3 linked regions of the Homo sapiens genome follow. The protein of the gene in region 1 purifies or fractionates together with the protein of each later gene. This does not show direct contact. Each region holds a gene or a part of one and is shown in the gene's direction. Other genes may lie near its edges.

Region 1 (3,500 bases):
TTTCTAGGAGAGATTTAATTGTAGTTAGAAGATTTAGTGATAAGAAATATTGTGCTCTATCTTATCAGTTATAAATGAATCTGTACTTCCATTCAATTTATGTTCCAGTTGGTCTTATAATTTTGTGGTAGTGTTATTAGTTGCCATTTTCACCTAATAATTATTTAGTTATTAGTTTGGTTATTAGTTATTAGCTTGTAGTGTTATTAAGTCAGAAAGTAATATATACATACAATATACATGCAAATCTATATGCATGTGTTAATATATTTTTCTATCCCTAATTAATAGTTTTTAATATCTTTTTATTTTAGTCAGGTAAAAGTTCCAGAAATCTGAAATACAAAGATTTTTTTGATCCAGTTGAAAGTGATGAAGACATAACAAATGTTCATGATGATGAGCTGGATTCAAACAAAGAAGATGATGAAATTGCTGAAGAAGAAGCAGAAGAACTAAGTATTTCGGAAACGTGAGTATTTTGAACCATCCTTTACATTGTAAGCTGGAATTGCCCAATCATGTGTGTGTACTCGTAGTTATCAAATGTGTTTGTCTTAGCAAGTTCTATTCTCTAATATCAGATATTCTCAAGATAGCCAGAGGAAAGTCTCTGACTGTAAAGGGACATTAGAGATCACTTAATGAAGAAAAATATCTCTGGTAGTAGCAATCAAACCTTCCTTACCAGGAACTTTGATTTGGTTTTGTGTCAATAAAATCCTGTTATTTTTGTGAGATAAGAGATTTGTATTATAGATTGATGAATAATTTATTTTCTATATGTTGGACACTTTTTTTTCTGTTTCTTACATAGCGTTTTACCTAAATAATACCTTTTGTTCCTTAATAACTGAATGATTTTGGAAGTTCTGAGTATTTGGTTGCATTAGGTATATAAAATAAGAACTTTATTAAGGGAAAATTTGTTTCCTTTTGTTTTTCTAATGGAAAGTAGTATATTTCTTTTTATAAGAGTTTTGGTATTGTAGGGATGAAGATGATGACCTTCAAGAAAATGAAGACAATAAACAACATAAAGAAAGCTTGAAAAGAGTGACCTTTGCTTTACCAGATGATGCGGAAACTGAAGATACAGGTGTTTTAAATGTAAAGAAAAATTCTGATGAAGTTAAATCCTCCTTTGAAAAAAGACAGGAAAAGGTAATTAGTAATTTAAGGAATTTTTAATATACTTGATATTAACCATCCTTTGAAAACTATTAACCATCCTTTGAAAACAAATATCTTGGCCAGGTGCAGTGGCTCACGCCTGTAATCCTAACACTTTGGTAGTCCAAAGCAAGAGGATCGCTTGAGCTCAGGAGTTCAGAACCAGCCTAGGCAACATAGTGAGACCTTGTCTCTACCAAAAATACAAAAATTAGCTGGGCATGGTGATGTGTGCCTGTAGTCCAGCTACTCTGGTGTCTGAGGTGGGAGGATCACTTGAGCCTAGGAGGTTGATGCTGCGGTGAGCTAAGATTGCATCACTGCTCTCTAGCCTGGGCGGCAAGCAAGACCTTGTCTTAAAACAAAAAACCAAAAATCTTGCCATATGGAAAGCATCTGATTTGCAAAATCAGTGCCTGCATTTCAGTTTGGGGCCTGTGAGTAAAATAGTTGCTTCTGCTGGGCGTGGTGGCTCATGCCTGTAATCCCAGCACTTTTCGGGGCTGAGGCAGGTGGATCACTTCAGGTCAGGAGTTCGAGACCAGCCTGGCTAACATGGTAAAACCCCATCTCTACTAAAAAAAAAAAAAAGTAGCCAGGTGTGGTGGCGGGCACCTGTAATCCCAGCTAATCGGGAGGCTGAGGCAGGAGAATCCCTTGAACCCAGGAGGCGGAGGTTGCAGTGAGCCGAGATGGTGTCACTGGACTCCAGCCTGGGCGACAGAGTGTGACTCTGTCTCAAAAATAAAAAAATTTTTAAAGATAATTGTTTTTTTCTCTGTCCCTAATATCTTTATATGTATAGCATGTCTCTCCTGATAAAGCTGTCCTGTGAGCATCTTAACTGTTTCCACTGTTTTGGAGGATACCACATATGTCTTTTCTTTTTCTTTTTCTTTTTTTTTTTTTTTTTGAGACAGAGTTTCACTCTTGTCACCCAGGCTGGAGTGCAGTGGCGTGATCTTAGCTCACTGCAACCTCCACCTCCCAGGTTCAATCAATTTTCCTGCCTCAGCCTCCTGAGTAGTTGGGATTACAGATGCCCGCCACCACGCCCAACTAATTTTTTTGTATTTTTAGTAGAGACGGGGTTTCACCATGTTGGCCAGGCTGGTCTGAAGCTCCTGACCTCAGGTGATCCACCCACCTTGGCCTCCCAAAGTGCTGGGATTACAGGCGTGAGCCACTGCGCCCAGCGGATACCACCTATGTCTTTAAGGTGCTCCACAGATTTTTGTGAGTGCCAAATAGCCAGAATTTTAATTTATACCATCACAAACATATCTTTCAAAGTTGGTAAAAATTGTTTCTTTGTGTCATGATTTCAGACAAGTGAAATTTCATTAAATTTTTGTAGATGTAGTCTGGCTCTAATAATTTGGCTCTATCATTTATTTACCTTAAAATTTTTATCACAATAAAAATGAGAATAGGGCCAGGCACAGTGGCTCACACCTGCACTTTGGGAGGCTGAGGAGGGAGGATTGTTTGGAGCCCAGGAATTCGAGACCAACCTGGGCAACAGGGCAAAAGCCCGTCTCCACTAAAGATTAAAAAAGTTAGCTGGGAATGGTAGTGTGTGCCTATAGTCTTTGCTACTCGAGAGGCTGATGGGGGAGGATCTCTTGAGTCCAGGAGTTCAAGGCTGCAGTGAGCTATGATTGCACCACAGCACTCTAGCCTGGGCAACAGAGCTAGAGACTGTCTGAAAAAATTAAAAAAAAAAAGAGAACAGGCAGAGAATGAAAGATACCAAGAATATCAAAAGAATTGTTTTTAAAATCTAAGAATCTGAATTAAATCCATGGTTGTCAGATTGTCCCCAGAAGATAGAGAAATTCTAAGGGAAAAAAAGCACCATTATAAAATATCAATGAGTTAGTATCCTTCCACCCCACTCCTCCCGCCCTTCCCCAACAAATAAAGAAAGAAAGGTTTGGTTTTATTGTGAAATTATATCAGACCTTCAAGTTAAGTTTCAATAAATCAAAAATAATTTATTTCAATTTCCACATATAAAGAATAAAGTAGAACTTTCAACCTTTTTTTTTTTTTTTTTGAAACTGTTAGGTCATGAAAACCCAAACCTGACAGAGGTAGCATTAAAACACACACACACACACACACACACACACACACACACACACACACACAGAGCACAGTCTCATTCATGAACAGTGATGCAAAAATCCTACAGCACAGTGGAAAAATGATGCCACACAACTGCATGAACCTTATTCTCTTGAATCAGTATTAGAAAATCTAGTATGATTCCTGACTGCAAGACATTAAGGAGAAAAAACATATAGTCACCTCCATATATGTCA
Region 2 (3,500 bases), on another chromosome or scaffold:
AAAAGCAAGGCCCACGTCTTCTGTCATGGTCAAGTATCCTCTACACAGCACAGTGCTCCGGATCTTACTCCATGTGGGCAAGTCTTTTAAGTCTTTCTGTAAGTTTCTAAAACACAGTGATTTTAATATTTACACTTCTTTGGTAAATGCTTTAAGGTCTTTGAAGTTGAAAGGCTAATTAAATATAGCCCTGCTTGGACATTTATTTTTCTCATCTAAAAAAAATGAATACTCATCTTAGTTTTGGTTTTTATTTATTTATTTGTTTGTTTTTTAGCCACAGATTCTTACTCTGTTACCCAGGCTGGCATGCAGTGGTGTGATCATGGCTTACTGCAACCTCGAACTCCTGGCCTCAAGAGATCTCCCTCTTCAGCCTCTTGAGTAACTGGGACTACAGGCACATGCCACTGCGCCTGGTTAATTTTTTTCTTTTTGTAGAAACAAGGTCTCCCTATGTTACCCAGGCTGGTCTTGAACTCCTGGGTTCAAGTGATCCTCCCACCTTGGCCTGCCAAAGTACAGGGCTTACAGGCATGAGTCATTATGCCTGACTCATCTCAGTTTGTTTTTTTTAGAAGGGAAAAGTATACAGTGATCTGTTCTACCCTCCCAATGTGCTTAATATGAAACACATATCAAGTATGAAATAGTCTTGTAATAGTACTATGTGTGTGTGTGTGTGTGTGTGTGTGTGTGTGTGTGTGTGTGTGTGTGTATTTTTTCTTGGGACAGTCATGCTCTGTGGACCAGGCTGGAGTGCAGCGGCGCCATCTCGGCTCACTGCAACCTCTGCCTCCCAGGTTCAAGTGATTCTCCTGCCTCAGCCTCCCAAGTAACTGAGATTACAGGTGCGCACCATCACACCTGGCTAATTGTTTTTGTGTTTTTAGTAGAGATGGGGTTTTACCACGTTGGCCAGGCTGGTCTGGAACTCCTGGCCTCAAGTGATCCACCCACCTTGGCCTCCCAAAGCGCTGGGATTACAGGTGTGAGCCCCCACACCCGGCCAGTAGTACTGTATTCTGAAAACAATACAAAATAGGTTAGTTTTATCTCTGGGAACTAGTTTATTCCACCTGAAGAAATTATTGAATCTTATTAGGCATTGAAGTTTCAAAATGCTGAGATTTCAGGTTAATCTACAGATTGTTATGAGTTTAATTTCAGATATTCATGGGTTGGTAATAGATTTATTTCATTAATCATGTAAAAGAGTATACATCTTGTCCAAGTATGTTAGCAGCTAATGTTTTTAATCTTTTTTTTTTTAGATTCACAGAGAGTTAATAAAAATTTCTGAGGGAACAGGATTCAGAATACACATGATCCACAAAGCAGCAGTGGCAGCCAAGAAATTTGGACCTAAATCATCTAAAAAGTTTGGTAAGGAATTCATACATGGGATGTAGATAGAGCATGTAAGGAATCTGGAAATTATAAATATCCTAATTGCTATGTAAGTGTTGTTAAAGTATAGTCATGTATGTATAAAATTTGAATTTTAGAAGAACTAAAGCGATCCCCTTCTCACTCTACTGAGAAGTTATACATAAATATATACCAGTAGTTCTCAAATAGAGACAATCTTGCCCCCCACCTTTCACCACAGGGACATTTGGCAATAATTTGGAGACATTTGTAGTTGTCACAACTGGGGAGAAGTGCTACTAGCCTGTAGTTACTAGCCTATAGCCAAGGATGTTGTTAAACATTCTGCGGTGCACAGGACAGTCCCCTGCAACGAACACTTAGTGGCCCAAAGTGGTAACAGTGCTGAGGCTAAAAAATTCTGATTTATACCATTGATTTTTAATCTGCCATGGAAATACTCTGGCAGACAGGAATGGCATGCATAGCTGGGTGCAGTGGCTCACACCTGTAATCTTCTCCATACCTATAGCTATGGAGAAGCTGAGGTGGGAGGATTGCTTGAGGCCAGGAGTTTGGGACCAGCCTTGGCAACATAGCGAGACTCCATCTCTAAAAGAAATTTTTTAAATAAAAAAAAATTAGCCAGGCATGGTGGTGCATGCCTGTAGTCCTAGCTACTTGGGAGTCTGAGGTGGGAAGATCACTTGAGCGCAGGAGTTCAAGGCTGCCATGAGCTATGATTGCACCACTGTACTCCAGCCTGAGCAACAGAGTGAGACTCCATCTTAAAAAAAACAAAAAGAACGGCTTACATCCTCACCCTTATATCAGCCAGAGAATCTGCTTTCATTTTTTTTTTTTTTCTTTTTGTTTTTTGACATTGTCCACTTGGAGATAAGCTTTCATCTGTTTTGTTTTGTTTAAATCTTGGGCCTCTGCATAAAATTCCATGTAAAAAAAATGATTTTCCTGGGGGAAAAAAAGATTTGAAAATTAAATTGTTCTTTCCTCTTAGAAATTGAGAAGAGGCTGGGTATTGTGGCTCATGCCTGTAATCCGGCATTTTGGGAGGCTGAGGCAGGGAGATTGCTTGAGCCCAGGAATTCGAGACCAGCCTGGACAGCATAGGGAGACCCTGTTTCTACAAAAATAAAAGTAAAAAAAAAATTTACCATCTCTACTAAAAATACAAAAAATTAGCTGGGCGTGGTGGCGGGCGCCTGTAGTCCCAGCTAGTGGTAGTCCCAGCTACTCGGGAGTGAGAATGGCGTGAACCCGGGAGGCAGAGCTTGCAGTGAGCCGAGGTTGTGCCACTGCACTCCAGCCTGGGCGACAGAGCTAGACTGTCTCAAAAAAATAATAGTAATAAATAAAAATTAGCCAGGTGCAGTGGCATGTGCCTGTAGTCCCAGCTACTCAGAATGCTGATGCCAGAAGATCTCTTGAGCCCAAGAGTTTGAAGTTGCATGCAGTGAGCTATGATCACACATTGTACTCCATCCAGGCTGGGTGACAGAGCAAGACCCTGTCTCAAAAAGAAAGAGAAAGCTGCTCAGATATATTAAAAGGAAAGTAGGGATATAATAGTTTTGTGTTGTTGGCTATGACTACTTCCCACTTCAGGTTATTAACTGAAGTTGAGGAGGCTTAATTCCTAGTTCAAGAGGGATAAATCCTGTTTTTGCAATTTCTACCATTTGTTTTTCCTATAGATATTCTTGTGACTACTCCAAATCGACTAATCTATTTATTAAAGCAAGATCCCCCCGGAATCGACCTAGCAAGGTATAGATGATATTTTCATGTCTTTCGTGTGTATTTTTAATTTAGTTAATTATATTTTGTCCTCTATTGCTTGTATTTTTTGTCTTTGGAGCTTGCTGTTTGCCACCTTCAGTCAGTGTTGGCACTGAGAATAATGGTTTTTTAAAAAAATTCATAGAAAAGAAATGGAACCTCGTATCTTTGAGGCTATTGGAATAGGTACATTAAGCTATGTTTATCTTCCTTTTACCTTTTTCCTGCTGTGTTAGTCCGTTTTCATGCTGCTCTAAACAGCTACCTGAGACTGGGTAATTTATAAAGAACGGAAGGTTTAATTGACCCACAAGTCAGGGCATGACTGG
Region 3 (3,500 bases), about 61 Mb from region 1:
TTTTTTTTAAATTACAGTTATACATGCATAGTTTTAAAAACTAAACATTTCAGTCTGGGCACAGTGCCTAACACAAACATTATGGGCTCACACCTGTAATCCCAGCACTTCGGGAGGCCAAGGCAGGCAGATCACTTGAGGCCAGGAGTTTGAGACCACTCTGGCCAACACAGTGAAACCCCATTTCTACTAAAAATAGAAAAACTAGTTGGGTGTGGTGGTGCGTACCTGTAATCCCAGCTACTTGGGAGGCTGAGGCAGGAGAATTGCTTGAACCTGGGAGGCAGAGGTTGCAGTGAGCCAAGATCACGCCATTGCACTCTAGCCTGGGCAACAGAGCAAGACTCCATCTCAAAAAACAAACAAACAAACAAAAACAAAACAAAACAAAAAAACATTTCTGTAATCCCATCATTTTGGGAGGCCAAGGCAGGGAGGATCACTTGAGCCCAGGAGTTCAAGACCAGCCTGGGCAACATGGTGAAACCGCATCTCTACAAAACATTAGCTGGGTGTAGTGGTGCATGCCTGTGGTCCCAGCTACTCAGGAGGCTGAGGTGGGAGGATCTCCCTGCAAGGCCGCAGTTAGCCATGGTTGTGCCACTGCACTCCAGCCCAGTAACAGAGTGAGACTCTGTCAAAAACAAAAACAAAAAAAACCTAAACATTTCTCCAAGGTTTGTTAGGAATGTAGGCCATCCCATTGTCTGCCCCTTTTCCTCCCTCTGCCTTCCTCCATTTTCACCTCTTCTCAGACAACCACTTTTGCCTTTTTTGCTGATTATTTTGGTATAAATCTCTCTCTCTCTCTCTCTCTCTCTCTCTCTCTCTGCCCCCTCCCCCTCCCTCCCTCTTGCCTGTAGTCCTACCTCTTAACTTTTTAGTGTTAGGCATTATCTTTTGATAACTTTCCTTTCCAAGGAAGCTATATTGTGATTTTGATTAAGTTGGTATTCAGCATTACATTGTTGTACTTTTGTTTTTTGAGATAGAGCCTGTTACCCAGGCTGGAGTACAGTGGCAGAATCATAGCTTACTGCAGCCTCAGTCTCTCGGGCTTAAGTGATCCTCTCACCTCAGCCTCTCAAGTAGCTGGGATTACAGGTGCACACCACACCCAGCTAATATATATGTATGTATATATTTTAGTAGAGCTGAGGTCTCACTGTGTTGTCCGGGCTGGTCTCCAACTCCTGAGCTCAAGAGATCCTCCCACCTCAGCCTCCCAAAGTGTTGGGATTACAGGCACGAGCCACCATGCCTGGCCTACGTAAGTGCTATTTCCAGCCGAGTCAGTAGTAATCTGTGACTGCATTTCTTGTTCAATCTTTGTGTACTTTGAAGTTAATAATTGTCTCTCTTGCTCGTTTTCTATGTAGTTATCACTAATCAACACCCAATTCTATGTCAGTTCTCTAAGTCTTATTTTGAGGTGTTTAGATAGGTTAGACTTATGCTTATTTACCTTCCTGAAGAAGTTGCTTCTAGAATTTTCTGCCCCATTCCATTCTAGCCTGGTCACCTTCTAATCCCGGGACCTCCCTTTACCATTATCCTGGGGATTCACTTCACCTCAGCCCATGTTGGACAGAGAATTACAAGAACCTTCAGTTTCCTGAAGGAATATAGTTTCCAACCTAGGCAAGCAGTCAGTCAATGTGAGGGTATGGTAGATATTTTCAGACATGCAAGTTCTCAACAACAACCAATTCCCCTTAAATGCTGCTTTTCCTCGGGAAGTTGCTAGGGGAGTTGTTTCTCTAAAATAACAGTGTAAGCCCAGGAAGAGGAAGCGTCCTGGGAAACCTGACACGAAGCGACTGTACTGTGCTGCAAGCCCATCTCAGTCTAGAAGTTCGGTCTTCAGTGCTGGGGAATTTTCTTGAAAGAAAATTTCAATTAGTTTTTCCTGCCATGATCCATAGTTATTTTTTGGCAGTGAGGAATAAGAGAGTTAAAAAACTGAATGAAAACTCTAGGTGGGGACAGGGTCCCTCAGTCAGTGTGCAGTGACTTGGCCACACTGTTTGGGGAAGGACACTGCACATGTCATTGTCTCTTAGGTCTTTCTCTTGGCTGGTCAGGTCCTCCTGCTTGGGGGGGTAAAGGCCTGGCTACCAGCATTCCTAGAACTGACCACTGTAGGTCACAAGAGGTTGGAGGGGTCCAGAGGGCACCTCACCCCCATGTGCCAGCCTTGCCCTCCCCTCCTTGTGGCCAGCACACCTCTCTTGCTCTTGCAGTGCCAGCCTCAGCCAAGCAACTTCTCCGTGGGAAAGGGCTGGGGCCAGGCTTTCCAGAGCTGGGGTGTGATTTTTAAATAGGCTTTCTTTCTGGCTTCCAAATTTTTATTACCCCTATTTCCTTTCCTTTTTTTCTTAAGGGTTTATGCCCTTTTTATAAAGCTCCTTTTCTGTTGTTCTAGTGAAGTTTTAGGAGAGATTAGAAGATACTAGTGTTCAAGCCACCATCTTTACTCAGAAGTCTGTACCAGCCTAACTTCATAGGTATCATAGCATTGAAAGAACTAATTTGATTGGCCGGGGTGCAGTGGCTCACGCCTGTAATCCCAGCACTTTGGAAGGCCGAGGCAGGCGAATCACCAGGTCAGAAGTTTGAGACCAGCCTGACCAACTGGTGAAACCCCGTCTCTACTAAAAACACAAAAATTAGCCGGCCGTGGTGGCGCGTGCCTGTAATCCCAGCTACTCCAGGAGGCTGAGGCAGGAGAATCGCTTGAACCCGGGAGGCAGAGGTTGCAGTGAGCCGAGATCACACCACTGCACTCCAGCCTGCGTGACAGAGCAAGACCCCATCTCAAAAGAAAAAAAAGAAAAAAAAAAAAACTAATTTGTTTCAAATGGCAATCATTCTTCATATATGTTACTATGTTGGAACAAAATAATAATAGGCGTCCCACTCAGGTAGACAGATACCATTCTTCCAGGTAGGACTGTGGTATGAATAGTACTTTAATGTTTTCTATATTTTAATGGTAAAGTTGAGCATGTGTAGACGGGTATTTATAGGACGGATCACTAGCCAGACACTTGTAAGCTCCTATAGAACATTAATAGCTATACCTTATCCTACTTTTTTCCTTAAGACAGCTGTGAAAACAAACAGACTAGGAAAAAACCCTGAGGGAAATATTTTTACAAGCTGGGTCAGAAGAGGTTTTATTTTATAGTTGTTCATCCAAAGCATACTTGTCTTTAGGCAATGCAATTGATTTGTTTTAAATTAAGAAAAAAATCTTAATACCAGCAACATATGTAGTCTTTGTAACATTTTCTCTATTTATTAAATATGATTATTACTTTAATAAATATAGTAAGATGAAAAGTAAATATTTGCCCTTGGGTTTTTTTAACCTGAAAATGTGTAATAGGCACATAGTTATTCATTTGAAATTATCTTTCACACTATCATCTATCCGATATCTACAGATAACTCCAAAATTTACATCATAGCCCCCTCCCTTCTCCTGAGACATGGCG

The links. Proteins that work in one complex are often made in the same cells at the same time.
Region 2: the proteins of MPHOSPH10 (region 1) and DDX52 fractionate together in Homo sapiens (co-fractionation; one large-scale study listed by BioGRID). This does not show direct contact.
Region 3: the proteins of MPHOSPH10 (region 1) and NOL10 fractionate together in Homo sapiens (co-fractionation; one large-scale study listed by BioGRID). This does not show direct contact.

Annotation. Positions count from the first base shown.
Region 1 is NC_000002.12:71,133,634-71,137,133, forward strand, and holds part of MPHOSPH10 (U3 small nucleolar ribonucleoprotein protein MPP10), read left to right. Parts: intron 1-314; coding exon 315-472; intron 473-992; coding exon 993-1,164; intron 1,165-3,500. UniProt on the Homo sapiens protein: Component of the 60-80S U3 small nucleolar ribonucleoprotein (U3 snoRNP). Required for the early cleavages during pre-18S ribosomal RNA processing. Part of the small subunit (SSU) processome, first precursor of the small eukaryotic ribosomal subunit.
Region 2 is NC_000017.11:37,626,447-37,629,946, reverse strand, and holds part of DDX52 (probable ATP-dependent RNA helicase DDX52), read left to right. Parts: exon of another isoform or gene 1-71; coding exon of another isoform or gene 72-98; intron 99-1,274; coding exon 1,275-1,386; intron 1,387-3,086; coding exon 3,087-3,159; intron 3,160-3,500.
Region 3 is NC_000002.12:10,592,476-10,595,975, reverse strand, and holds part of NOL10 (nucleolar protein 10), read left to right. Parts: intron 1-3,500.